7 linked regions of the Homo sapiens genome follow. The protein of the gene in region 7 purifies or fractionates together with the protein of the main gene of each other region. This does not show direct contact. Each region holds a gene or a part of one and is shown on either strand. Other genes may lie near its edges.

Region 1 (3,734 bases), on a different chromosome or scaffold from region 7:
ATTCCCAGTAACACTGTCCTATTGGGTTACCCCAAGCAAATGCAGTCCCTTCTGTGAGCCTCGTATGGGGCTTTTGCACATCCTGAGCCCAGGCTGGTTCCTCTGTGAGATTTCACTGAACAGAAGGCCCACTGCTCTAAAAATAGGACTGAAAGGAGAGTCAGCAGGGTCCTCTCAAGGAGCTGCTGCTGCCCAGGCTTCTTCAGGGCTGTTTGTGCTCACATTCTGCCCAAAACTTGGTCTTCAGGACCCTGGCCCATGACAAACCAGAATTTTAGGAAAACCTAGTAGTTTGGGAAGAAGTGGCAAAGCAGAAGACTGGCAAAAAGGGAAAAAAGAAGGTCAAGTGAAGCTGGTCAGGGCCTAGCAAAGCACCATGGGGATACCTCATGTAGGGCACATACCTGCCTGACATTTGGTAGGTCTCATCCAGCTCTTAGCATGTCACCTTGCAAGCAATATTAGATGTCTTTTGAATTTTAAAAAAGTTATAGTTAGTGTTTATTGATAAGCTTTAAATACCTTGGCCGGGCGCCGTGGCTCACGCCTGTAATCCCAGCACTTTGGGAGGCCTAGGCGGGCAGATCACGAGGTCAGGAGATCGAGACCATCCTGGCTAACACGATGAAACCCCGTCTCTACTAAAAATACAAAAAATTAGCCGGGCGTGGTGGCGGGCGTCTGTTGTCCCAGCTACTTGGGAGGCTGAGGTGGGAGAATGGCGTGAACCCGGGAGGCGGAGCTTGCAGTGAGCCGAGATCGTGCCACTGCACTCCAGCCTGGGCAACAGAGTGAGACCCCATCTCAAAATAATAAATAAATAAATACATAAATACCAGCAGAATTATTCCATGTGTAATGGTTAATTTATTGATGATCCTGGATAAGCCAGGTATTCCCATTTTTAGAGAAACTGATTTATTGCATTGAACACATGGCTGGAGTTGGTAGCAAGGGGGTTCCCACAAGAGGGGACCCCACAGCATCCTGAAATGGAGCCGTTTTGGGATTCCAAAGAAAGAAGCATCAAACACCAGGGTGATCTGGCCAGAGCGTTTATTAGGGGAACTTATGTATAGAGTGATGTAGCATGTCCTCAAGACAGACAAGGGAAAAGAGAGGCTTTACCCAGGCTTGCCCACAGAGTGGGTTAGTGTATGGAGTTTCTATGAGGGTTTAAGGAATTTGTCTCAGGGCCAGAACCAGTTTTTCCTTCAGTGTTTTGGGTAACAACCTTGATGCCTTTATCAGTGCCTGGGAATGTTCAAGGGCCTGGTTTGGGTTCAAGCCTGCTGGGAGAACCTGCAGCTGTCTGGGTCACAGAGAGGTCAAGGTACTCGTCATTTTCAATCTGAACATGGAAAGAAAGGAGGTGGGCACTGGGGGGCCCCACTGAAACTCTAAAATCCTGCTTTCCTAAATAATTTATCAACACCTGGTTTGTTCTCCCAGGCAGTTTTCCCTAGGGCCCTTCCCTTTGTCTCCTATTCTCCCAAGATTTGGTTGTCTGTTCACAGGGTGGCCTTTAACAGCCTGCTGGTTGTGGCCTTGTTCCCACCTCCCTCCAGTGTCATTCTCTCTCTTGCCGTCCTTTCAAACCACTAGTGCTTCCCCATGGCTGGGAAGGGTTGATATGGCCACCTGGGAGCCCCTGCACTTACTGGAGTCAAGTGGGTCTTGACCCAGCTGGGAACCTCAAGAACCCTGAGTCAGGGATCACTTGAGCCCAGAAGCTTGAGACTTCGGTGAGCTATGATCTTGCCATGGCACTGCAGCCTGGGCAACAGAGCAAGACCCTGTCTCAAATTTTAAAAAGAAAAAAGAAAAATAATTCTAAATCAGGTTCCTGGGTGGGTATTGGTTAGGTGTCTGAGAGGCTCTGAGCACTTCTAGGGAACCAGGGTGGATGTTCTGGCGGGGGAAAAAGCCAGGTTTGTTTCTGGTCCCAGCGCTTTTGGAGAGGCAGGCTCTTCCAGAGAATCCTAGGGTAGGGATGGGGATGGTCTTAGGTCCTTTCCAAACCACAGATATATGACACAGTGACCATTTGTGCTGCTTCCTGCTTTTCTGGAGAGCCAGTACTTCTTTTTTTTTTTTTTTTTTTTTTTTTAGACGGAGTCTCGCTCTGTCACCCAGGTTGGAGTGCAATGGCGCGATCTCGGCTCACTGCAACCTCCGCCTCCTGGGTTCCAGCGATTCTCCTGCCTCAGCCTCCTGAGTAGCTGGGATTACAGGCGCGCGCCACCACGCCCAGCTAATTTTTGTATTTCTAGTAGAGACGGTGTTTCACCATGTTGGTCAGGCTGGTCTCAAACTCCTGACCTCGTGATACACCCACCTTGTCCTCCCAAAGTGCTGGGATTATAGGCATGAGCCACCGCACCCGGCCGAGCCAGTACTTTTGATCTAAGAGGGAACTGACATATATCAAGGGTCCACTCCTATGTGCTCTCTCATTTTCATCATGTTCCTCTTCACTTTAATGATCCCCGTTTTATAGATGAGGAGACTGAGGCTTAGAGAGGTTAAAAACATTCTGTACGGGAGGCTGAGGCAGGAGAATCATTTCAACCCGGGAGGGGGAGGTGTTAGTGAGCCGAGATTCTGCCACTGCACTCCATTCTGGGCAACAAGAGCGAAACTTTGTCTCAAAGAAAAGCAAAACAAAACCAAAAAAAAACATGCTGTATATCCTGTCACCCAGTATGTTTCCAAACCAGGACTTAAACCTAGTCTGCAGTAAGCCCCAGTCTCCAGTGTGTCAGAAAAGGTCGGGGACAATTAAGGAGGACTTCCCTTCTGCTTTGCCTGGCCCACAACAGCCCGTATTTCTGCCATCATTCTCTCTCCCACCCCCAGATGCTGTTCACCAGCCCAGGCTTGAATGGGTGTCATTCTCTCTGCAGATCCCAGAAATTATCCATTTCTGCTGTGATTTCCTCATGTCCTGGGTGGACGAAGAGAACATTCTCGATGTCTACCGGCTGGCAGAGCTGTTTGACTTGAGCCGCCTGACTGAGCAACTGGACACCTATATCCTCAAAAACTTTGTGGCCTTCTCTCGGACTGACAAGTACCGCCAGCTTCCATTGGAGAAGGTCTACTCCCTCCTCAGCAGCAATCGCCTGGAGGTCTCCTGCGAGACCGAGGTATATGAGGGGGCCCTTCTCTACCATTATAGCCTGGAGCAGGTGCAGGCTGACCAGATCTCGCTGCACGAGCCCCCAAAGCTCCTTGAGACAGTGCGGTTTCCGCTGATGGAAGCTGAGGTCCTGCAGCGGCTGCATGACAAGCTGGACCCCAGCCCTTTGAGGGACACAGTGGCCAGCGCCCTCATGTACCACCGGAACGAGAGCCTACAGCCCAGCCTGCAGAGCCCGCAAACGGAGCTGCGGTCGGACTTCCAGTGCGTTGTGGGCTTCGGGGGCATTCACTCCACGCCGTCCACTGTCCTCAGCGACCAGGCCAAGTATCTAAACCCCTTACTGGGAGAGTGGAAGCACTTCACTGCCTCCCTGGCCCCCCGCATGTCCAACCAGGGCATCGCGGTGCTCAACAACTTCGTATACTTGATTGGAGGGGACAACAATGTCCAAGGATTTCGAGCAGAGTCCCGATGCTGGAGGTAGGACAGGGTGCTAGCTGGTCCCTTTGTCTTCAGGTGATGAGAGGGTGTGGAAGTCATGGGCTGAGAGAGCTGGTCAGGTTCCCCCCAGCCTTTCACATGAGCATCA
Region 2 (4,504 bases), on a different chromosome or scaffold from region 7:
CTCCCGGGTTCACGCCATTCTCCTGCCTCAGCCTCCCAAGTAGCTGGGACTACAGGCGCCCGCCACCACGCCTGGCTAATTTTTTTGTATCTTTAGTAGAGACGGAGTTTCACCACGTTAGCCAGGATGGTCTCGATCTCCTGACCTCGTGATCCGCCCACCTCGGCCTCCCAAAGTGCTGGGATTACAGGCATGAGCCACCGCGCCTGGCCTAAAGTAGTCTTTTATCCAACTCCTAATCTATATTTCTGGTAGAAGTAATCCAAAAATCAAACTAACACATGGTACACTTTGTTATTGACCAAAAACTGACTGTAAATTGCATCTTGTTGCTAACGTTGAGAATGGCAAAAACTGTCCCACACCCATGAGATCTGTCTGAAAACCTAAACTCAAATCACTGGCAAAATAAATGTGTGGCTGACTGAAGCGATGTAAGTACCAACTCTTTTTTTTTTTCTTTGAGACGTAGTCTCGCTCTGTCGCCAGGGTGGAGTGCAGTGGTGCGATCTCGGCTCACTACAATACTCCGCCCGCGTTCAAGCGATTTTCCTGCCTCAGCCTCCCGAGTAGCTGGGACTACAGGCGCGGGCCACCACGCCCGGGTAATTTTTGTATTTTTAGTAGAGACGGGGTTTCACCATGTTGGCCAGGATGGTCTCGGTATCTTAACCTCGTGATCCGTCCACCTCGACCTCTCGAAGTGCTGGAATTACAGGCGTGAGCCACCGCGCCTGTCCGTAAGTACCAACTCTTCACAAAATTTAGATCTGTTAAATAACACCAGTGAAAAACGGGCTAACCAGAAACAATGGTCACCAAAGAAACCCTCAACAGCAGAAGTTACAAGTAATAATTTTATATGGCAAAAAAAAAAAAAAAAAAAAAAAAAAAGAGAAACGAAACCCTGGGAGACGAATCATACTGCAAATCATATCCCTGGGTAGCAGGGCAGAAATACAGGTAAACAAAATAGAGAGGAGGGGGATGCCTCTAGCCCGGAAATAAGTGGGTGGTGGAGATGGTTCTTCTGGCCATATTCGTTTACCTTTTTTGTCAGCAGAAAAGTACTGAGTCTACAAAGTAAAAAACTGACCACGATGAAAATTTCTGCAAAGTAATTAAAATGGGAGAAAAATGGAAATGGCTTAAATACTCGGTATAAAAAATCGACCAAGGAATCAAATGGGCTCACGGATTTGCGTCAGAAACGTTGCTTCCCCGATAATTGGTCAACGTCGGTGTAACTATGATTAAAATGTCAGTATTCAAACAAGGGCTCCAACACTACCGTGGCCCAAGGGCGTCTTCGGCTCCCACCCCGGGGCGTGGGCCTGGGGGTCCCTCTTCACTGCGCAGCCACCTCTAGCCCGCCGCTTTCGGGACTCTCAGCCTTCTTTTCCCTTCCCTGAGGGCCGGCCGGCACCACAACGGGGCCAAAGGCAGTAACTCGGTTGAAAGGCGCGCCCTGGGACAGGTCAGCGGGCTCCGCCATGCGCGGCACGCATCCCGCAGGAGCGGGTGCCAGAGCAGGGTAGGCCGGGAGTTAGCAGCCCAGCCAGGCCGCTGGACTCGGGCTAGGGGCGGGGCCAGCGCAGGGGGCGCAGGCGCACACCGCCTCCGCGGCAGCATGGCGGACGCAGCTCCTCAACTAGGCAAGAGGAAGCGCGAATTGGACGTGGAGGAGGCCCACGCCGCCAGCACAGAGGAAAAGGAGGCAGGAGTTGGAAATGGTACCTGTGCTCCTGTCCGCTTACCGTTCTCCGGCTTCAGACTGCAGAAGGTGCTGAGGGAGTCTGCGCGGGACAAAATCATTTTCCTACACGGGAAGGTACCAGGAGGCAACCCTGAGGTGGGATGCGGGAAGCAGTGAACCAATCATCGCCTCGGAGGCAGATTTTTTTTTTTCGGATCTCGGCTGGAAAATACCAATCATTATCACTCCGGGGAGGCGGGAGTGCGCCACTAGAATGCATAGAGGGGCGGTGAAAGGCGGCAAGATTGCCTTTGAAATTAAGGCAATGAACACATCTAGCTCTAATTTTTCTAATGTCTCCACTAGAAATATCTACTGGGAGAGTGCATTGCAGATTAAAGATCACATGTTACATTCCCCAAGCCATTCATCATCCATTTATGTATACAGGGACTAGGAACCCAGTCAATGTTAGATGTCTCGCTCATCCCTGTCCGTGGAAACGACATGAGACTGTAGGAGATGTGATCTCTGCCTTACGCGACTTCAGCCGTAACAGGAGAACAATATATTATAATTGTTAATTCAGTTCTACGCACGCACTTTCATGCATGCCAGACACTAAACTAGGTACTGGGGATGTGGAGACGAAAGTTACCATCCCTGATCTTCAGGACTACGGAATATTTCTGGCGAGACAGATACACACAGCTTGCTCCAATACCAACGTGCTCAGCAATCTGGCAGGGGCTGAGGAGAGATGGAGACCATTCCAGGAACTAGTGAGGAGGCCTAGCCAGAGCAGATATGGGGGTTCCCCAGAAACTAGTGAGGAGGCCTAGCCAGGGCAGATAAGGGGGTTCCCTAGAACTACTAGCAGGAACTCTCACCTTTGGGAGGATCAGGGAACCTTGGCCTAGGCTTCCATGCCTCTGTGTGTATCTGGTTTTTAAATTTTTATTTATTTATTTATTTATTTTTGAGACGGAGTCTCTCCTCTCTGTCACCCAGGCTAGAGTGCAGTGATGTGATCTCGGCTCACTGCAACCTCTGCCTCCCGAGTTCAAGCTATTCTACCTGCCTCAGCCTGCCCAATAGCTGGGATTACAGGCCCCCGCCACCATGCCCAGCTAATTTTTGTATTTTTAGTAGAGATGGGGGTTTCACCATGTTGGCCAGGCTGGTCTCGAACTCCTGACCTCAGGTGATCCGCCTGCCTCTGCCTCCCAAAGTGCTGGGATTACAGGCGTGAGCCACCGCACCCGCCTTTTTTTTTTTTTTTTTTTTTTTTGAGATGGAGTTTCACTCTTCTTGTCCAGGCTGGAGTGCAATGGCACTATCTTGGCTCACTGCAACCTCCACTTTCTGGATTCAAGTGATTCTCCTGCCTCAGCCTCCCAAGTAGCTGGGATTACAGGCATCTGCCACCATGCCCAGCTAATTTTCGTATTTTTAGTAGAGACAGGGTTTCACCATGTTGGCCAGGCTGGTCTTGAACTCCTGACCTCAGGTGATCCACCCACCTCTGCCTCCCAAAGTGCTGGGATTATAGGCATGAGCGACTGCGCTGGGCCTTGTTTTTTGTTGTTTTTTGTTTGTTTGTTTGTTTGTTTTTGTTTCTTGTTTTCTGTTTTTTTGTATGCGATTCTGTCTGGTTCTCTCAGCCCAGCTGTCTTCAGTGTGCAGCACCTGTTGAAGGTGTTAGTCATGAGAGCCTTCGAGCTAGGAGTCACTTGGGAGACCTAGGTTCTGGTTTCTGTTTCAATGCTGACTGTTCATGTGACCTTGGGCAAGTCACTCAAGGTCTGTTTTTCATCTTCTGAAATGGGGAGAACTTGACAGAGGTCTTGTAAGCCTAAAATGGAAGACAACTGAGAAGCCTTGTATTCTGGGGAAGAAAGGTGTGAGAACTGCCACAAGGATTTGGGTGGAGATGCCTTCTCTGGCTGGGCATGGTGGCTCACACCTGTAATCCCAGCACTTTGGGAGGCTGAGGCAGGCATATCATTTGAGATCGGGAGTTCAAGACCAGCCTGGCCAACATGGTGAAACCCCATCTCTACTAAAAATACAAAAATTAGCCAGATGTGGTGGCATGCGCCTGTAATCCCAGCTACTCAGGAGGCTGTGGCGGGAGAATTGTTTGAGCCCAGGAGGTGGAGGTTGCAGTGAGCCAAGATCGCGCCATTGCACTCCAATCCGGGCAACAGAGCAACACTCCATCTCAAAAAAAAAAAGATGCCTTCTCTGAGAAAAGAAATGTGAAATGTGAGTGCCATTGGCTAGACTTCCCCAGAGGGAAGACTTCAGGGAAGGAAATCCCAAGTATTGGGAATTCAAAGGCCCTGGGAGCTTCTGTCTTGCTCTCCAGAGTCTCATCGTGGTTCTGCCCTTGAGCCCACTGATGATGCCTCTGCCCACAGGTGAATGAGGCCTCTGGGGATGGGGATGGAGAGGATGCCGTTGTGATCCTGGAGAAGACGCCATTTCAGGTGGAACAGGTGGCTCAGCTCCTGACGGGCAGCCCTGAGCTCCAGTTGCAGTTCTCCAATGATATCTACAGCACCTATCACTTGTTCCCTCCAAGACAACTGAATGGTGAGCAAGAGGTGGCCAGGGTGGCTGTATGGAGGGAGAATGGGATGGTGGGAAATTAGGTGGTATGGTGACCAGACTCTCTATACCCGATTTGCATATTCTAGTACAATAGGGAGATTACTTCCCTAGGGGACATTTGGCCATCGGTGAAGACATTTTTGATTGTCAGAATCGGGGGTGGTGGTGGGGTGTTGCTTCTGGCATCTAGTG
Region 3 (4,167 bases), on a different chromosome or scaffold from region 7:
TTTTGAGACAGGGTCTCACTCTGTGGCACAATGATCATGGTTCACTGCAGCCTCGGCCTTCTGAGCTCAAGTGATCCTCCCGCCTCTGCCTCCGCCTCCTGAGTAGCTGGGACTACAGATGTGCGACACAGCACCTGGCAAATTTTTAAGTATTTTCTTCAGACTGAAACATCATTGTGTTAAAGATAAAAAAGTAAAAAATATTCTTGTAGAGATAGGATCTCACTGTTGTCCAGATTGGTCTCAAATTTTTGAGCTCAAGCCATCCTCCTGCCTTGGCCTCCCAAAGTGCTGGCATTACAGGGTGAGTCACCATGCCTAGTCTGTACTGTTTTCCTGGCAATGTTATCTCATTCAATCTTCGTGAATAACCCTAAGGTAGATATGATACCAATTTTTCAGGTGAAAAAAACTAATCGGCAGGATGAAACTTCGTAAACAGCCTGTGGCTCCAAAAGCTTCTGGAAGGCTCAAGCTACCCATGTGCATCTTTGAGCCTCAGTTTCCCCATCTTTAAAATGAGGGGTTTGGAATAGATGTCTGTTCTCTGGGGCAGGATGCAGAGGAAAGAGCTGTCTGCGAATGGGCAAGAGAGAAGGTGGGTAAATACAGTTAAACCACAGTGACCGAGGGCCCAGCACAACGGGGGTGGGTGCGGTTACAAATGCCGTTAAGATTCCCGCCAAGGCGGAGGACGGGGGTGTCAGAGCCGAGCGAGGCCTGTGGGCGAGAATAGGCCTGACAGCCATTCTCCGACCTGCGTGGGCGCTGCAGGCGCAGGCCAGAGGCCAAGGGAGAGGCGATCCCTGGGGCTCTGCCCGGGTCTCAGGACGGCACCTCACCCGCCCGAGTCCTGCTCCACAGGATTCTCCGGGTAAGCTAGGGAAGGAAGAGGCGCGGCCTCCTGAGCCCGCATCTCAGAGCGCCACGTCCCTCCTGGCTCAGCCTCCCACCAGGCTCCACAGCTTCGGCCCTCCTCACCGCCCGCCTCCAGGCTCCCCGGCGCGGCCTTGTCCCTGCTCCCGCCAATCGGCGTCGTCAGCAATCGCGAACCGGACCAATCAGCGGCCGCAGAGTGTGGGAACTGTCGCCATGGCAGCCAGGAGGCGGGCGCGCGCGGCGGGAGGAGGGGCAGAGCGGAGCGGTGGGCCGGGGGCTGGAGGACAGGTTTGTGCGCTGGACGCAAGCACCAGGCGCAGCCTCGCTCGCCGAGACCCGGCCAGGTAAGGCCGGTGGCCGCGCGGTAGGTGCGGAGCAGCGCGGCGGGAGATTAGGGGTGGGGGAGTCCGGAGATAAGGCTCCGGTCTTCGCCTGCCTTGCCAGAGCAGAGAGGATGGTGGGGGCCGTGCTGTGGGCGGGGCACCGGCGGGGAGGGGGCTCCCAGCGCGAGCCGGAGGCGCTGGGTTCCCTCTGCTCCACTCGCAGCTGGGCACCCGAGCTTTCTTCGGGGTCGAGGAGGGTGGCTGGCTCTTGGCGGGGAGCAGGAGAGGGTAGGTGCCAAACCGAGACCCTGGCGGGGTCCCTTCGGGTTTGGGCAGGTCGATGGGCAAGGGGGTGCCCACTAGTGAGGAGGGACACCCACCAATTCCAGGCGATGCTCCCCTGTGCCGCTCAGCAAAGCTAGGCCCGGGGATCCTGCTCTTCTCCGGTCTGGTTAAGCCAGCAACCTCTGACACTTAGGAGAAAGTTAGTGTAAGTCGTGATATGCTTTTCACTTAAGTGACAAATTAGGTACGAGATGAACCCTTTTGGTTTTAGGAGATGAGAAACAGTATTTCCTTGTTGCACCTGCTAAGTGGCAACTCAGTGAGCAAATATGGTTATTGTGGTTGGTGTTTGCAACGGTCTTAGATGACAGTTATTTTACAGTATCAAATGGCTGGGAGAGGGAGGGAAAGAAGGAGAGAGAGAGAGAGAATATGAGGGAATGAGAATGAACGGGAACCATTATGATTTTTGAGAGACAGAACCTCTTGAAATTCTATGTCTGCTAAACTTCTAAATTGAATAATGTACATTTTATGCAATTGAATAAGCTAGTGCTACCATTTAAGCCTGCTACTAAGGCTCTGTTAAATCCGTGGACGAATATGAACACTAAAAGATATTACCTTGGTTTAAAAATAGGGGAGGTTAAATGCAAATATTTCTGATAGTGAATTTTGTTTGAGGGAGATTGTGGACTTTCCCTATGGGAAAGTTAAAGAATTGATGAGATAGATGCTTTAAGGAATGTTTTTGTTTTTTGAAACTTGAATAAGTTCAACAAATGTTGAACAAATATTTCAACAAATCTTCTTCAGCTAATAGGGTCAAAAATTAAAATTCTGGAAATTTAGAATTAGAAATGAAATCTCAAATAATGTCACTCTCCTAATTAGGATGAACATGGAAACTTCTATTTCTCATCGTGGTCTTCAAGCTTTCCATGATCTCATCTACCTTTGTAGTAGGGGGTCAAATTTTTTTTTTAACTAGACAATTTTAGAAACTTAAAGGAGGCAAAAATTTATTTCTGTCTCCGTGTGTTTACTCATGCTCTTCTCTATCCAAATTTTACCCATCTTTTTTTTTTTTTTTTTTTTTTTGAGATGGAGTCTCACTCTGTCACCCAGGCTGGAGTGCAATGGCCCGATCTCAGCTCACTGCAGCCTCCGCCTCCCGGGTTCAAGGGATTCTCCTACCTCAGCCCATCGAGTAGCTGGGATTACAGGGACCCACCACCACAGCCAGCTAATTTTTTGTATTTTTATTAGAGACGAAGTTTCACCATGTTGGCCAGGCTGGTCTCGAACTCCTGACCTCAGGTGATCCACTTGCCTTGGCCTCCCAAAGTGCTGAGATTACAGGTGTGAGCCACCGTGCCTGGACGACCCATGTTCTAAGAGTCGAATCTGTCTATGTTGTGTTTACCTTTCTTTGCTCTCCCAAGGTACATATTGTTCATATCACGTATTTTGTATATATTCTTTCAGCATGCTTTTTGCCAAGTTGGTTTGCGCTCTGTGAATAACAGTTGAGATAAAATGCACAATTAAGACAATTAAGGTACTTTTCAAGACACAACTAATTATGGGCACTAATATCAATAACATCAATTCAGATGTCTTTTTTGTTTTGGGATATGTTATTAATCTCTGAACACATACTAAACTAATTTTGCATTACTTAGAATAATATGTAAATTACTTTCCACTTTCTAAGGACCCTTTTGAAGGCTGGGTTCTACAAAATACCCTTTTGAGTACTGGGTAGCTGGCAGAAGCAAGTGCAGGATTTAAAAATGTATTGAAAATAATCCTTTAGGCCGGGCATGGTGGCTAATGCCTGTAATCCCAGCACTTTGGGAGGCTGAGGCGGGTGGATCACTTGAGTCCAGGAGTTCAAGACCAGCCTGGCCAACATGGTGAAACCCCGTCTTTACTAAAAATACAAAAATTAGCCAGACGTAGTGGCGGGCATCTGTAATCTCAACTACTCAGGAGGCTGGAGCAGGGGAATCGCTTGAACCTGGAGGCGGAGGTTGCAGTGAGCCGAGATCGCGCTATTGCACTCCAGCCTGGGCAACTAGAGTGAAACTACGTCTCAAAAACAAAACAAAAAACAGGCTACTAACAATTTCAAATAATTTATTCAAGGAAAAACTTCAATCACTTTCATTATTTCCAATCAAAAATTTTTTTTACAACCATGATGTGGTGAAAAGTATACTTAGTTAGAATTTCATGGCCAGATTCCAGTACGGGCTCTGCCAAACGAACTTGGCCAAGTCAGTTAACTTCCTTCTGTATTTATAACCTTTTATAAAAGTAGGGCTGAATTAGATTACAGTAGTCCTCCTTTATCCTAGAGGGATATGTTCCAAGGGTCCCAATGGATGCCTGAAACTACAGGTAGTACCAACCCTTATATACGCTATGTTTTTTGCTATACATACATAATAATAAAATGAATAACAGTAATACACTGAAATGAAAGTTATATGAATGTGATCTTTCAAAATATCTTGTTTTACCTCAGGTAATTGAAACTGCAGAAAGTGAAATCGCAGATTAGGGAGGACTACTGTACCTCCAAGATTATTTCTGATCTTAGAATTCTCTGATTCTAAAATCCTAAAGCAGCCTAATAGAAGTTCAGATAGTAGTTACTTGATTTTATTTTTGG
Region 4 (3,734 bases), on a different chromosome or scaffold from region 7:
GCTAACATATAGCAGTGATAGGTTTCAAAAAAGGCACTGTCAACAACTGTACAGAGCTGTATGAAGCATTTTCATGCCTATTATTTTAATTCTCAGCCACCTCTTAAGCCAGATTCTCCAGATTCTCACTCCTGCATCACAAAAGAGCAATCACGGCCAACAACTTGTCAAGATTTATATAGTCTCATCTTGACTTCTGTACTTTTTTTTTAAACCAATGCAATAGGGGCAGAATGTGTTGCAAAGCAGCAAACTAGAGCTATCTTAGATAAATAAATAAATACACACACACACACATATGATGGGGTGCATTATGGAACTTGCTATGGTTTGAATGTTTGTGTCCCCCCAGAATTCATGTTGAAATCCTTACCCCCAAGGTGACAGTATTAGGAAATGGGGCCTTTGAGAGGTGTTAGGTCATGAGAGTGGAACCCCCATGAATGGAACTAGTGTCCTTGTAAGAGGAACCCAGAGTCATCTGTGATATAAGGTCACAGAGAGAAGAGAGCTTTCTGTGAGGAAGGAGGACCTCATCAGACACTGAATCTGCAGGTGACTTGATCTTGAACTTTCCAGCTTCTGGAACTGTGAGAAACAAGCTTCTGTTGTTTAAAGCCACTCAGTCTATGGTATTTTGTTATAGTAGCCCGAATGGACTAAGACAGAACTCAAGAAGAGGGAAGGATAGCTGAGTCTCCCTGGAACCCACTGGGAGACCTGGCAGTCCTCTCTGCATGTCTGATTCTCTGTCATCTTCTCATCCACATCCCTCACCCTCTGGTTTTTCCATGCCACACCAAGACCACAGTTTCCAGCATGGCACAAGGGTTCAAAGGGCACATTATTCATTCAGCCCTAGAATGAATAATGAGCCTGAAATCTCAGTTGGAGTTCCAAAATTCCTGGGACATGACTAAGCTTAGGTGAGAGGGGTACTCTCTACTCAATTGACTCTAAAGGAAATTATCAGAATAGTACTGGAAATGAAGTAAAATCATGGGTACCATGTTAGACCAATCTGGCCAAATCAATGATTGCAAATGTTGTGAAGAATTATCAAATGTTTTACTAAGATGATTATACAAAAACCTTTAAAAATTCAAATGAAAGAATTACATTTAGTAAAGTGTAAGTTTGGGTCCCTGGGAGTCTGGAGGTTGCCTGCCATACTGGACTGTGATGAAAGCATATTCCTACTGCATGAAGCCAGTGAGATGTTGGGATTATTATTGCAGTTCAGCTACCCTGATACTGCATTACTACTATAATCAACAGGAAAACAAACTAATAAGCTCCTTCCAAAATGCAAAACTTCAATAGTGGCCCATGGTCTACAGAATGAAGTCCTCAAGATGACATACATGGTCTTCTTCCATGACCTAATCCCATGCACTTCACATTCTGAAAGTCTCATTGACTCTCCTAAATGTTTTCCAAAGAACCTAGACCTGTTTTTCTCCCTCACACTACTGATCCCAATGTATTGTAATGAGTTGTTTGCTGTCCCTCTCTTTTCCTAGATTGTGAGTCTCCACGACGGCAGTGGCTTTTTTTCTTCTTTGCAGATATATCTTCAACACAATATCATATGTTGGGCATATAAAAGATGCTGAATGAATAATGTGCTCCTAAATGTTCACAGCTCCCTGAAAATTCATGTAATTTTAGAGCCTGGAAAGTAGGAAAAACCAATTCTCATTTTATTGAAACATATTGTCTTCTAAAATTGTTAATTCCTGAATACCCAACTCACTGACTTAAAGTTCTGACAATATTACTGAAATGAAATGAAAAGCCATGAGTAAATAATATCCTTTTGAATTAGAATTGGTTTCTAGACTAAATCCTTTAAGAGTTGGAAGCTTTAAAAACTCTGACCTCCTAAAGTCAGAATTGAAATTTTTTGTCTTAGGAACTTGAGGTGAAATGAATCATAGGTATTTTATTAAATGGGGGTGGATTCTGAATTATTTCAGAGAGGAAGCAACCTTAGAAACATAAAAATCATCATTATTAACTCAAAATGTTCCACTTGTGAGGCGGGCATTCTCAGAGAAGCACAGTTATTTTACGTTCCTTGGAAACTTTAGGCTTTGATTGCCTTTCCATCAAAAATAAAAGCATTTTATATTAAACAACATCATTCAAGGTTGAGGCTTAAATGTTACTTTAATAGTATCCACAAAGAATCTGGTTTAGTTATTAAAATGACTTATTTTTATTTAAAGAAAAAATCTGTGATTTTACTCATTGTATATATAGAAGTGAATTTTTAAAAAATAGTTTCTTCTTTTATGTGGATTCTCTTAAGATTTGAAGAACCAAACTATTCTTTGGTTTTATTATACGGGAAAAACAACACGCAGTCTAGTTAAACAACTTTGTGATATTTATATTCCATTGCACAGATATGGGTTATACAAATTAGTAACACAAGTTATTTCTTAAATTCCAAACATTTTCTAAAATATTATTACAGCAGATGCCTAGGATATTAAAACATAAAGGTGGAAATCATTCTCTAAATAGTTAAATATATTTGACACTGAAAATACTGCACATTTTAATTAGAGGAAAATTAAAATGTGTGCTCAAATGCACTAACAAACTAGGTAGCAGGGCAACTAACAACTACAAATAAGTCACTGTGGTCCATTTTTACGTATGCATATATATGATTATTCTCTAGATAATCCGTCTTCTTGAAAATGCTAATAAAACATAAAAATCCAGATAAATGATTTAAAGAAATTGTAATTCTTCCTACTACCTAAGGTGACATGTACTATTATCTATGACTTCATACAGTTACTAATTCAAATATAAAAGACACCACACTTCGAAAGAAAAAAATTTTAAGGTAATGGTTTTAATTGAATTAATGAGATGAAAAGATAGTAAAGCCCTGTTTGCTACTTACATGAAAGAAGACTTTAAAAAATAATCACTGCACAAAATGTAAAGGGTGGGGTTATGCTGTGATATTAATTTTCCTCAATAATGTTTTTCTTGACTGTTCAAGAACAAATTAAAGTTTCCACGGCAAATTTGTTTTCAAAATGCCGAATTGCGAAACAATTGCTGGCTTCACGTTTCTGAATACCTGTTGGAGAGGGAAAAAAGTTTTTTAAAATTTTGATTCTTTAATAATAAATATTCACATCATTTTTATAGTTATTATTTAGACATATAGAAGTATTTCACTCTATATTCCACAAAAACTTCTACAGTTTGAATGTTTACACTGAAGAAAAGTAATTTTTCTCCCTTTTCTGAACCAAGTATTAATATCTTGACAGATCACAGCAACATTAATAATGCTATCCAGACTGCTTACAAATTCATGAACTTGAAGGTATTGAAAATGTTCTGTATCTTGACTATGGTGGTGCTTGCAAGACCTTGTGTATCTTTGTGGAAACTCAGAGTTGCACACTAAAAAGGGTAAATTTCATGGCACGTGTAAGGCTGACTTTAAAAAAAATTATGAACCAAGAGAATTTTAAAATGTAAGAAATCAACACAGCAATAAAAAAGAAATCATGTCCTTTGCAGCAGTATGGATACAGCTGGAGGCCATTATCATAAATGAATTAACACAGAAACAGAAAACCAAATACCTACCTTACAATGCTCTCACTTATAAATAGGAGCTAAACACTGGGAACTCACTGACATAAAGATGGGAATGATACATACTGAGGACTATAAGGAAGGGAGGGAGGGAGGGA
Region 5 (3,734 bases), on a different chromosome or scaffold from region 7:
CATTGCATCCTGTATTAAAGCTAAATCTTGAGTAATGTTAATATTCATTCTGGTTAACAAATTTTTTTTTTTTGAGACGGAGTCTCGCTCTGTCCCCCAGGCTGGAGTGCAGTGGCGCGATCTCGACTCACTGCAAGCTCCACCTCCCAGGTTCACGCCGTTCTCCTCCCTCAGTCTTCCGAGTAGCTGAGACTACAGGCGCCCACCACCACGCCTGGCTAATTTTTTGTATTTTTAGTAGAGATGGGATTTCACCGTGTTAGCCAGGATGGTCTCGATCTCCTGACCTTGTGATCCACCCGCTTCAGCCTCCCAAAGTGCTGAGATTACAGGCATGAGCCACCACGCCCAGCCTAAAAAATCTTACAAAACCATGTTAGTCAACTTAGTGAAATGACTTTTAGCTTAGTGATTAACCACTCTTGTACAGGATTATAGATGTGGGTGGTTAGAGTGAGTCTGAACTTGATCCAGGATATCCCTGCCTGCTACCCAGAGTTTTTTGGTCATTTGCCTAATCAAAAAAGTAGAGTACAAGTAATGTCATTTGAGAACTCTGGATGATGATGGTTTTGCTCTGTTTTAAGTAATATTCTGTTGAGTCTTAAACACTAGGAGAAGCAGAATTGGCTGGGAGCAGTGGCTCACGCCTGTAATCTCAGCACTTTGGGAGGTCAAGGCAGGAGGATTGCTTGAGACCAGGAGTTCAAGACCAGCCTGGGCAACATGTCAAGACCCTGTCTCTACAAAATATTTTTTTAAAAAATTAGCTGGGCATGGTAGCACATGCCTGTAGTCCCACCTACTTGGGAGGCTGAGGCAGGAAGATTGCTTAAGCCTAGGAGTTCAAGGCTGCAGTGAGCTATGATCAGGCCACTATGCTACAAACTGGGCAACAGAGCAAAAGCCTGTCTCTAAAAAGAAAAAAGAAGGGAAACAGAGTTGTCATACTTATGCATGAAATTTGGATAGTTTTACAGTATGTTTGCCTGTTCCATAAATTGGGGGATTATATTGTGACCAAGTTTTTTCTAATTCAAGTTAAATGCTTTGTTTTTAAAAAGAACCGAGCTGAAGCTGCCATGGAATTCTTACAAGAATTAAATAGCGATGTCTCTGGAAGTTTTGTGGAAGAGGTATATATGTACACACATTATTATGTCTGTGCTGAAATACAATTTTTTAAATAATTCAAAGCCCCAGAAATTTAGAATTTTGAATCTTTGTGTCATTTATGATTAGTTGAATTGGAATTGTTGCCTCATTTGTTGTAAAATAGCTTAACTGTCTCTGCCATGTTTAATATGATTGTGAAATTGGTTTTTTTTGTTTGTTTTTTTCTTTGCTGTCCTGTTTAGAGTCCAGAAAACCTTCTAGACAATGATCCCTCATTTTTCTGTAGGTTTACTGTTGTAGTTGCAACTCAGCTTCCTGAAAGGTAAATTTTTATGTTAATATGTTTTTATTTTAATCTTATTAGATTTGCATTGTTTTATTTTCTTTGCACAGTCTATGATGATATGGTTTTAAAAATTGTTAAATTCTATAGAAACTTTAAATATGAAACTTTTTTTTTTTTTTTTTTTTTGAGCTTGAGCTCAAATTCCTGAGCTCAAGCAATGCACCCTCCTCGGCCTCCCAAAGTGTTGGGATTACAGGTGTGAGCCAACGTGCCTGGTCAAGAGTTTCAGATTTATGGCTGGGCACGGTGGCTCATGCCTGTAATCCCAGCACTTTGGGAGGCCGAGGCAGGTGGATCACGAGGTCAGGAGATTGAGACCATCCTGGCCAACATGGTGAAATCCCATCTCTACTAAAAATACAAAAATTAGCTGGGCGTGGTGGCTCACGCCTATAGTCCCAGCTACTCGGGAAGCTGAGACAAGAGAATCGCTTGAATCAGGGAGGTGGAGGTTGCAGTGAGCCAAAGATCGTGCCACTACACTCCAGCCCTTGTGACAGAGTTAGACTCTGTCTCAAAAAAAAAAAATAAATAAATAAATAAATAAATAAAAGAAATTCTTAGAAATCTTCCAGCATTGAAAAGATGAGGAAGAGAAAAATACTGAAACTTTTTTTTTTATTATTATTCTTTAGACAGAGTCTTGCTCTGTTGCTCAGGCTGGAGTGCAGTGGCACAATCTTAGCTCACTGCAACCTCTGCCTCCTGGGTTCAGGTAACTCTCGTGCCTCAGTCTCCCAAATAGCTGGGATTATAGGCATGTGCCACCGTGCCCGGCTAATTTTTGTATTTGTAGTAGAGACGGGGTTTCACCATGTTGGCCAGGCTGATCTCAAACTCCTGGCCCCAAGTCATCTGCCTGCCTCAGCCACCCAAAGTCCTGGGATTACAGTTGTGGAGCCACCAAGCCTAACCTTAGATGTGAAACTTTTGGAATATATTTAGAGCAGTTAAACCGAACATTGTTTTTTTGTTGTTGTTGTTTTTGTTCTTTGTTTGTTTTAGTGATTAAAAACTAGTTAGAATTGATTATTGAAGGCTGGGTGCAGTGACTCATGCCTGTAATTCCAGCAGAACCAGGCTGAGACAGGTTCAGATCACTTGAGCACAGGAGTTTAAGACCACCTGGGCAACATGGCAAAACCTTGTGTCTACAAAAACTACAAAATTTAGCCAGATGGTGTGCCTGCTTGTGGTCCCAGCTACTCAGGAGGCTGGGATGGGAGAATCACTTGAGCCTGGGAGGTCGAGGCTGCAGTGAGCCATGATCATGCCACTGCACTCCAGCCTGGGCAACAGAGAATTGGTTATTGGAATTGTTAGGGGTGTATTTGTGGGTTTTATATTTTTTCTCTATCATGGAAATGTTTAGAATTATCTTTCTTTAACGTTTCTCCTTAATATGACAGACTAAAGTTTCACATCCCTCTTGTCCAAAGATGTACTTTCTTTGAGACTGCAGCCTGTGGAAATGCTTGCTTTTCAGTGTGTTCTTGACCTGCTTATGTAAATGCAGTTATGTACCTTTGCATCTATTATTTAGTAAGAAAGTTGCTGTAAGACATTTTCATGTTTTGCATGTTTTCATGTTTGGCATATTTCCATTTGCTTATGTTCATATTTTGCTTTTTTTTTTTAAACAGCACTTCACTACGCTTAGCAGATGTCCTCTGGAATTCCCAGATTCCTCTTTTGATCTGTAGGACATATGGACTAGTTGGTTATATGAGGATCATTATAAAAGAACATCCAGGTAAAATTGTTGAGCATATGGGCTTACTATTGGTTGCTTTAGCTATAATTTTAGAAACTTGACAATTTAGAAAGTCAGTTTTAAATTACAAAGTAAATTTGTAGCAGCACATCTCTAGTTGCAGATTCAAAGTGGCAATCAGATTCAATAGGCTGCAATCTACTCTTTATGTAGCATTATAGAAGGATACAAAGCATGATATACCACAGGCACAGCTTCTTCATCTTATTAGGAGATCCAGCAACTATGCAAGTACCCAGCTTCTTTTGCCCCCTAACCCACATTGGGCATGTATGGCTGTGGAGAGCTAAGGAATGTGGATCACTCTGACCCATGAAGTTACACCACCTTTCCCCACTCCAGTCTTTTTTTTGTTTTTTAAGACAGAGTTTCGCTCTTGTTGCCCAGGCTGGAGTACAATGGCACAATCTTGGCTCACTGCAACCTCCACCTCCCGGGTTCAACTGATTCTCCTGCCTCAGCCTCCCAAGTATCTGGGATTACAGGCACCCGCCACCA
Region 6 (3,734 bases), on a different chromosome or scaffold from region 7:
CCACGGATTCGGCTGTGCCCTGTGCCCTGCTGCTGGAGCTGGCCCAAGCACTTGACCTGGAGCTGAGCAGGGCCAAAAAACAGGTGAGGAGCAGGAGTCGGGGAGGGTAGTGGGCTACCTCCACCTTTTCCCAAGCCCCCACCCTCCCTTGCCTGGACATTTGTCATCCCTCTCGTCTTCCCACTCTACTCCACGCACAGAGCCACAGGGATCTTTTTTTTTTTTTTGAGACGGAGTTTCGCTCTTGTTCCCCAGGATGGAGTGCACATGGCGAGATCTTGGCTCCCCGCAACCTCTGCCTACTGGGTTCAAGCAATTCTCCTCCCAACCTCAGGTGATCTGCCCACCTCGGCCTCTCAAAGTGCTGGGATTACAGGCGTGAGCCACCGCGCCTGGTCATCACAGGGATCTTTTTACCTTCTAGATGTCAGATTCTCTTTCCTCTCCCCCAAACCCTCCCAGGGCTCCCGCCTCATTCCAGCCATAATCCAGAGTCCTTATATTGGCCCACGAGCTGTGCCCTGTTACCTCTCCAGCCTCATCTCCCACCCCTCACCTCTTGCTCACTCTGCTGTAGCCACCCCCACCTCCTCTGGGTTCCTCAAACCCGCAGAGCTTGCTCCCACCTCAGGGCATCTGCACTTGCTGTTTGCTTTGGATAGAATGTGCTTTTCTGGCCAGGCTCCGTGGCTCACACTTGGAATCCCAGCACTTTGGGAGGTTGAGGTGGGTGGATCACAAGGTCAGGAGTTCAAGACCAGCCTGGCCAACATGATGAAACCCCATCTCTACCAAAAACACAAAAATTAGCCAGGCTTGGTGGTGCACACCTGTAACCCCAGCTACTCGGGAGGCTGAAGCAGAGAATTGCTTGAACCCGGGAGGCGGAGGTTGCAGTGAGCCAAAGTTGCACCACTGCACTCCAGCCTGGGCAACAGAGCGAGACTCCATCTCAAAAAAAAAAAAAAATTATCTGGGAGTAGTGGCATGCTACTTGGGAGGCTGAGAGGGGAGGATGGCTTGAGTCTAGGAGTTTGAGACTGCAGTGAGCCATGATCGTGCCACTGTATTCTAGCCTGGGTGACAGAGACCTTGTCTCTTAAAAAAAAAAAAAAGAATATGCTTTTCATAGATATCTTCCTGGCTGGCTCCCACTCTTCACTCAGGTGTCCACTCCAATGTCACCCCTTCAAAGAGGCCTTCCCGGCCGGGCGTGGTAACTCGCACCTGTAATCCCAGCACTTTGGGAGGCCGAGGCAGGCAGATCATTTGAGGTCAGAAGTTCGAGCCCAGCTTGTCCAACAGGGAAACCTCATCTCTACTAAAAATACAAAAATTAGCTGGGTATGGTGGTACATACCTGTAATCCTACTACTTGGGAGGTTGAGACAGGAGGATCACTTGAAACTGAGAGGCGGAGGTTGCAGTGAGCCGAGATCGCACCACTGCACTCCAGCCTGGATGACAGAGCGAGATTCTGTCTCAAAACAAACAGAAAAGAAAAACACAGGCCAGGTGCGGTGGCTCACACCTGTAATCCCAGCACTTTGGGAGGCCAAGGCAGGTGGATCGTGAGGTCAGGAGATTGAGACCATCCTGGCTAACACAGTGAAACCCCGTCTCTACTAAAAATACAAAAAGTTAGCTGGGCGTGGTGGCGGGCGCCTGTAGTCCCAGCTACTTGGGAGGCTGAGGCAGGAGAATGGCGTGAACTCGGGAGGCAGAGTTTGCAGTGAGCCGAGATCGCGCCACTGTACGCCAGCCTGGGCGATACAGCGAGACTCCGTCTCAAAAAAAAAAAAAAGAAAGAAAAAAAAGAAAAGAAAAGAAAAACACAGATTTAATCATGCTCCTGCCCTGCTTAACCCCTCTCTGTGCCTCCCCAGTGTCCCTATAACAAAGCCCACACTCCTTGGCCCTTGCTAAACCTTCCGTACCCCTCTCAAACCTCTGGGACCCCTTCCCTGGCCATAGCCTTGCCCTGTGTTGCTCCCTTGGCTGGGAATACTCTTCCTCCTGCTCCATTTTGCCAGGCCAGTTCCTACCCATTCTCATGGCAAACATCCCTTCCCAAAAGACCCAACGCCCTCTCCAGGCCAGGTCATCCCCCAGCCTCCTTCCTATGCCCTCTCAGGACTCTATAGTTCTTAGAAGCATTTGTCTCAACTGCATTTCACTGTTTGTATAATTATTCATTTGTGGATCTATCTGGTTCACCAAACTGAGCTTGAGGAATAATAATCAGAGATAACCCTTATTTAGTTATATGCCAGGCACTGTTCTAAGACCTGGATTCAAACCTTACCCTTTGAAAAGAACTGTTATTGCCGGGCGCGGTGGCTCACATCTGTAATCCCAGCACTTTGGGAGGCTGAGGTAGGTGGATCATTTGAGGTCAGGAGTTCGAGACCAGCCTGGCCAACATGGTGAAAGCTTGTCTCTACTAAAAATACAAAAATTAGCCAGGCATGATAGCGGGAACCTGTGGTCACAGCTGTATGGGAGGCTGAGGCAGGAGAATCTCTTGAACCTGGGAGGTAGGGGGTGGAGGTTGCAGTGAGTCAAGATTGCATCATTCCACTCCAGCCTGGGTGACAGAGCAAGATTTATTCTAAAAAAAACAAAAAACAAAAAAAAAACAAAAAACCTCTTATTAACCCCATTTATAGATGAAGAAACTGATCCTTCCAGAAGTTAGTAACTTCCCCATGCCTGCTTTGTTATGAAGCAGCCAAGTACGGATTTGATCCCAGACAACTGACTCGGAATCTGTGCTCTTGGCTACCACGTTCTATGAGTGAGGACACCTTATGTGTTCTCTTAAGCATGCAAGCGGGCAAGAAGTGTGGGTATGTTGAGGCTGAGGGCTAGTCCTGAGCTGGCTCTGGCCACCCCCCTGCTGCTCCCACAGGCAGCCCCGGTGACCCTGCAACTGCTCTTCTTGGATGGTGAAGAGGCGCTGAAGGAGTGGGGACCCAAGGACTCCCTTTACGGTTCCCGGCACCTGGCCCAGCTCATGGAGTCTATACCTCACAGCCCCGGCCCCACCAGGATCCAGGCTATTGTAAGACCAGGGTCCCCTGGCTTCTGGCGAGGGAGGGAGCAGGTTAAGCAGGGCTGGCGTCATCCTGCACGGGCCCCTCCAGTCCTAGCCTTTCTCCTTAGGAGCTCTTTATGCTTCTTGATCTCCTGGGAGCCCCCAATCCCACCTTCTACAGCCACTTCCCTCGCACGGTCCGCTGGTTCCATCGGCTGAGGAGCATTGGTAAGGGTGAATGCGGAGGTGGGCCCCAGCCCACCTGGGGTATGGGGTACAGGGCGGTGGGCTGGGGTAGGACAGGCACCTACACTCTAAAGGCTCATCCACCAGTCTGGGCCACATAGGGAGACCCCATCTTTTTTTTTTTTTTTTTTTTGAGATGGAGTCTCGCTCTGTCACTGAGACTGGAGTGCAGTGGCATGATCTTGGCTCACTGCAACCTCCACCTCCCAGGTTCAAGCCATTCTCCTGCCTCAGCCTCCCGAGTAGCTGGGACTACAGGCGCATGCCACCATGCCCAGCTAATTTTTGTATTTTAGTAGAGACAGAGTTTCACTATGTTGGCCAAGCTGGTCTTGAACTCCTGACCTCGTGATCCGTCCACCTCAGCCTCCCAAAGTGCTGGGATTACAGGCGTGAGCCACCGTGCCTGGTGACCCCATCTCTTAAAAAAAAATTAGCTGGGTGCAGTGGC
Region 7 (3,734 bases):
CAAATATCTGGGTACCGTGGCCTAGCCAAGTAGCCAAGTTCACATTCCTGAGTGTTCGCCGAACCCCCGCTCCCATCTTCTGGGCTCCAGACACCAGAGCTCCGGTTGGCTGTAGGAATTGGGAGGTGGCCCAGGACTGGCAAGTGCTGTCCCGGGTACACACCAGGCACCACCAGGCCCATCTTGAGCAGGTGGCTAGAAAAGCGCAGACTCAGAGCCAGGAAGGTAGAAGAGACCACACACAAAACACAAAACCACGAAAGGCAGGGGAGACTAGGCTGTGGTCCGTGAGTGGTGGATAGTGAGACAGGCTGTAAAAGGTGTGATTACGTAAATGCTATCTGCATTGTTCTTGTAGGTATTAAAACCAGAAAGCTGGCCGGGTGTGGTGGCTCATGCCTGTAATCCCAGCACTTTGGGAGGCCAAGGCAGGCTGATCGCTGGAGGTCAGGAGTTCAAGACCAGCCTGGCCAATATGGTGAAACCCCATCTCTATTAAAAACACAAAAATGAGCCTGGCATGGTGGTGCATGCCTGTAATCCCAGCTACTCAAGAGGCTGAGGCAGGAGAATCACTTGAACCCAAAGGCGGAGGTTGCAGTGAGTCGAGATCGCACCACTGCCCTCCAGCCTGGGCGACAGAGCAAGACTCTGTCTCAAAAAAAAAAGAAAACAGAAAAGCAAGGGAGACATGAATGAAATGTGTTCACCCATAGCGTTGCCTAAGTGTGTGTATATGGATTGATAAAGCAATCCTGCTGTATCAGAAGCATTGACCACTAGGATCCCTTCCAATGTTTAGACTCCATGCCTCTGGTTTTGTTGGCGAAGCGTGCTGAAGTTAGTGACACTGAGCATCAGCGCTGTCCGGATGTTACTATTGCAAGTTTCCTAGCTTATCATGAGCATGGGTCACCGTTGTCATTGCGGCTTGTACTTGGGGAGGGCCACGGTGCACTATTGTGGCCTGACATGGCTGCACTGCTGCAGGAAGACCGTGTAACACAGAGCCTGGGGGCCACCTTCTGCCCAGCTGGACTCCCCACTGCTGCACAGCCCAGGACTGTGGGAAATGAGCATGAAGCATTCCTAAAATAATTAGAAGCTTCTGTTTTCTTACATCTGGGCCCATGTGAACCCACAGATATAGCATGGGACACAGAGTATAGGCAGCAGGCCACGGGCCGTGGGGTCTGAGACCACACTGCGGACAAGCAGGTGGACCCCGAGGCCCAGAGTCTCCCCGACCCCAGCACCAGCCTGTTTGCTTTGGAGCCTGGCTCTGCCCTGCAGCAGTGCTCAGCCTGAGGAATTCCAGACTCCCCACCACTTTGGCCTTGTCGTTTCTAAGAAAGAGCTGGCCGCTGCAAGCTTGGACTGGCATCCTTTTCTGAGGATGTAGCTTTTCAACAGGGTCCAGGAGGAATCACTCCCTTGGGCTCTCCGGGGAAAAAAGCTTAATAAAGATGTCTCTCATTCTCTCATCCTCTTTGTCTTGTTACTCTTGTTTCAGATGTAGTTGCCCATTCAAATACTCTATTTCTGTTTCAGGAATATGTGTCTGGGAAGGAAGGCAGTTGACAGTTGTTGGAAATGAAAACCTAGTTTGCTTGAGATATTTCCTGCACGTCCCCTTGGCTGTGTGTTTGCAGCCCTGCTGGGAAAAGGTGGTGGGGGAGAGTTGTTTTGAGCTGGGAACATCAGCCTGGATTCTAAACTTAGGCCAGCCTGGCCCCAATTTTATATCGACTCTGTCCACCCTGTTTGCAGTCCTGATGGGAAAGAAAGTCTGGCTGGTATTCTCTCTTGTCTGAATATGCCTGAGCCGTGTTCCTTTCATCTCCTGAAGTAGTTGGAAGTGATGGTTGCCGTGTCTGGGCTGTTTAATGTCCAGGGCAGTCAGTGTCTCAGGGGTGAGAGGTTTTCTCCCTTACCAGTTACCTTCCAGCCCATAACGTTGGTTTCTGACTCTGATCCCCTTAACTTCTGCAAGATTCATGAAACTCTTTCTTAGCCATCAGATAGTAACCCAGAATTGAATAGTTTGGTGCTAGAGGGAAGGGAAGAGGGAAGGATCAAAGCCCAGGAAAGACTGGGAGCAGAGCACAGAGGCCCAGGGGGAAAAGGCCAAGTGGATGCCTGTAGGGAGAGGAGGAGGCTGTGATCGAGAAGGGCATGCATGAGGGAAGGAAGAGCTGGGAGACTGCCAGGTAATTCTCAGCCTGGATATTGTGAGCCGAGAGAGAGGAGGAGGCTGTAAGACCCAAGAAAGAGACAGCAGAGGGAGGAAAGAGTGGGATGGAGGGTACTGTCAGGAGAGAAGGCCAGGAGCAAACCTAAGTTCTTCCCTGCTCATGGCAGGCTCAGGAATCAGCTAGAGTTAAAGCTTACCCGGGGCTGCCAAGGGCTCAGGTGAATGCAGGGTGGACGCCGTCCTTGAAGTTCTAAGAATTTCAAGGAGATGCAAGGGTGGAGGATGTACCAGGCGGGGTTGAGTGGAGCTGGGAATCCTGTCACCCAGCATAGAGTGGGTGGGGGGCATGGGCTCACAGGTGTTGCCAAGCAGAATGTGGCAGGCTCAGCTCTGCTGAGATGAAGCTGAGAGCCCACGGGTGTGAGTGGTGCCCTGGGAGCAGCGCCCCTGGGGAAGACAGAGAGGAGGGACCTCGGGTCTGAGGAAGCTGGGAAGCAAGGCCGGGAAGGGGTCTGGTGCTGAGACCAGTTGGGGAACAAGTGTGAGACCTTGGAGGTGGCGCATGGTGGCTCAAAAGCTTGTGTGGAGGCAGAGGGGATGAGGGGGAGGGAGAAGGATGGGAGACATTGTCACTGTGGATTCTGATGTTGCAGGAATTGGGGTCAAAGAAGGAAAAAATGAGAGCCGGGGAGTAGTCAACCAGGAGGGCGCTGGCGGGTCTGGGGAGGGTGCGGAGTGTAGAAGCTGGAATAGGACTTTGTGGTGAGGGGTTAGAATGGGTGGGTTTAGGGAATGGCCAGGTGATGACATCAGCAGCCTGGAAGGGCAGCGGCCAGCCACCCTGTCCACGACTGAGCCTCGGCTCTCCTGAGGCTAGGTAAGACTCCCCTTTATGGGACGCAGTGTCAGGGCCCAGAAGAAGCACTTCAGAGCAGCACCTTTGCCTCTGTTTCAGGATCGCTGGTGACACAGCCCTCAACAAAAACATCCACGAGTCCGTCAGCGCCCAGATCCGGAAAAACTTTGCCAAGAGCAAATGGAGAGTAAGTGTGGAGTATATGAAATTCCCCGTGGATTAACCCCCTCGTGACACTGGCCCTCCAATCTGAGCATTTCTGAAATCCCCAGAACCTCACCTGAATAATTTTGCTAATTTTAACTGCAAGTAATAAAGACTCAGAGGGAATATTATGGTGTAAGAGGGATGGAGTGTGCAATTCAACACTTCCCCTCTGTGATCAAAGACAGCAATAGTGCCAGCTCTTCCTCATCTGCTGTTTCTTAACCAACATCACCCTTGTCTTTCTTCACCTTGCTAGAACTTTGAATAGCTGACTTTTATTAAAGCGATATGGAGGGGGAAAAAACAGGAAATCTGAGTTGTACTCATCAATGTTTCCTGATAAAAGTTTGACAGATTTAAACCATGGAGGTTTTGTGATCATCTGTTGATTACCTGACTTCCTAATCTCTTGATTACCTGACCTCCCCTCCGTGTTCCAATCAGCAATGGCAATTCAGAGCTAGCTATTTTGCCATG

Evidence for each region.
Region 1: the proteins of CAMK1D (region 7) and KLHL22 purify together in Homo sapiens (co-immunoprecipitation; one large-scale study listed by IntAct). This does not show direct contact.
Region 2: the proteins of CAMK1D (region 7) and DCPS fractionate together in Homo sapiens (co-fractionation; one large-scale study listed by BioGRID). This does not show direct contact.
Region 3: the proteins of CAMK1D (region 7) and NUCB2 fractionate together in Homo sapiens (co-fractionation; one large-scale study listed by BioGRID). This does not show direct contact.
Region 4: the proteins of CAMK1D (region 7) and ITM2B purify together in Homo sapiens (co-immunoprecipitation; one large-scale study listed by IntAct). This does not show direct contact.
Region 5: the proteins of CAMK1D (region 7) and NAE1 fractionate together in Homo sapiens (co-fractionation; one large-scale study listed by BioGRID). This does not show direct contact.
Region 6: the proteins of CAMK1D (region 7) and QPCTL purify together in Homo sapiens (affinity purification with mass spectrometry; 3 studies listed by BioGRID and IntAct, with this or other methods). This does not show direct contact.

The regions. Positions count from the first base shown.
Region 1 is NC_000022.11:20,464,749-20,468,482, reverse strand, and holds part of KLHL22 (kelch-like protein 22), read left to right. Parts: intron 1-2,906; coding exon 2,907-3,625; intron 3,626-3,734. UniProt on the Homo sapiens protein: Substrate-specific adapter of a BCR (BTB-CUL3-RBX1) E3 ubiquitin ligase complex required for chromosome alignment and localization of PLK1 at kinetochores.
Region 2 is NC_000011.10:126,302,451-126,306,954, forward strand, and holds the start of DCPS (m7GpppX diphosphatase), read left to right. Parts: upstream 1-1,609; 5' UTR 1,610-1,630; coding exon 1,631-1,831; coding exon of another isoform or gene 1,832-1,852; exon of another isoform or gene 1,853-1,872; intron 1,873-4,119; coding exon 4,120-4,294; intron 4,295-4,504. UniProt on the Homo sapiens protein: Decapping scavenger enzyme that catalyzes the cleavage of a residual cap structure following the degradation of mRNAs by the 3'->5' exosome-mediated mRNA decay pathway.
Region 3 is NC_000011.10:17,275,606-17,279,772, forward strand, and holds the start of NUCB2 (nucleobindin-2 isoform 1 preproprotein), read left to right. Parts: upstream 1-1,133; 5' UTR 1,134-1,223; exon of another isoform or gene 1,224-1,247; intron 1,248-1,417; exon of another isoform or gene 1,418-1,692; intron 1,693-4,167. UniProt on the Homo sapiens protein: Calcium-binding protein which may have a role in calcium homeostasis. Acts as a non-receptor guanine nucleotide exchange factor which binds to and activates guanine nucleotide-binding protein (G-protein) alpha subunit GNAI3.
Region 4 is NC_000013.11:48,260,511-48,264,244, reverse strand, and holds part of ITM2B (integral membrane protein 2B), read right to left. Parts: intron 3,107-3,734; coding exon 3,021-3,106; 3' UTR 1-3,020. UniProt on the Homo sapiens protein: Plays a regulatory role in the processing of the amyloid-beta A4 precursor protein (APP) and acts as an inhibitor of the amyloid-beta peptide aggregation and fibrils deposition. Plays a role in the induction of neurite outgrowth.
Region 5 is NC_000016.10:66,820,931-66,824,664, reverse strand, and holds part of NAE1 (NEDD8-activating enzyme E1 regulatory subunit), read left to right. Parts: intron 1-1,064; coding exon 1,065-1,136; intron 1,137-1,358; coding exon 1,359-1,438; intron 1,439-3,105; coding exon 3,106-3,215; intron 3,216-3,734. UniProt on the Homo sapiens protein: Regulatory subunit of the dimeric UBA3-NAE1 E1 enzyme. E1 activates NEDD8 by first adenylating its C-terminal glycine residue with ATP, thereafter linking this residue to the side chain of the catalytic cysteine, yielding a NEDD8-UBA3 thioester and free AMP.
Region 6 is NC_000019.10:45,695,636-45,699,369, forward strand, and holds part of QPCTL (glutaminyl-peptide cyclotransferase-like protein), read left to right. Parts: coding exon 1-83; intron 84-2,907; coding exon of another isoform or gene 2,908-2,911; coding exon 2,912-3,064; intron 3,065-3,146; coding exon of another isoform or gene 3,147-3,152; exon of another isoform or gene 3,153-3,165; coding exon 3,166-3,265; intron 3,266-3,734. UniProt on the Homo sapiens protein: Responsible for the biosynthesis of pyroglutamyl peptides.
Region 7 is NC_000010.11:12,821,316-12,825,049, forward strand, and holds part of CAMK1D (calcium/calmodulin-dependent protein kinase type 1D), read left to right. Parts: intron 1-3,149; coding exon 3,150-3,237; intron 3,238-3,734. UniProt on the Homo sapiens protein: Calcium/calmodulin-dependent protein kinase that operates in the calcium-triggered CaMKK-CaMK1 signaling cascade and, upon calcium influx, activates CREB-dependent gene transcription, regulates calcium-mediated granulocyte function and respiratory burst and promotes basal dendritic growth of hippocampal neurons.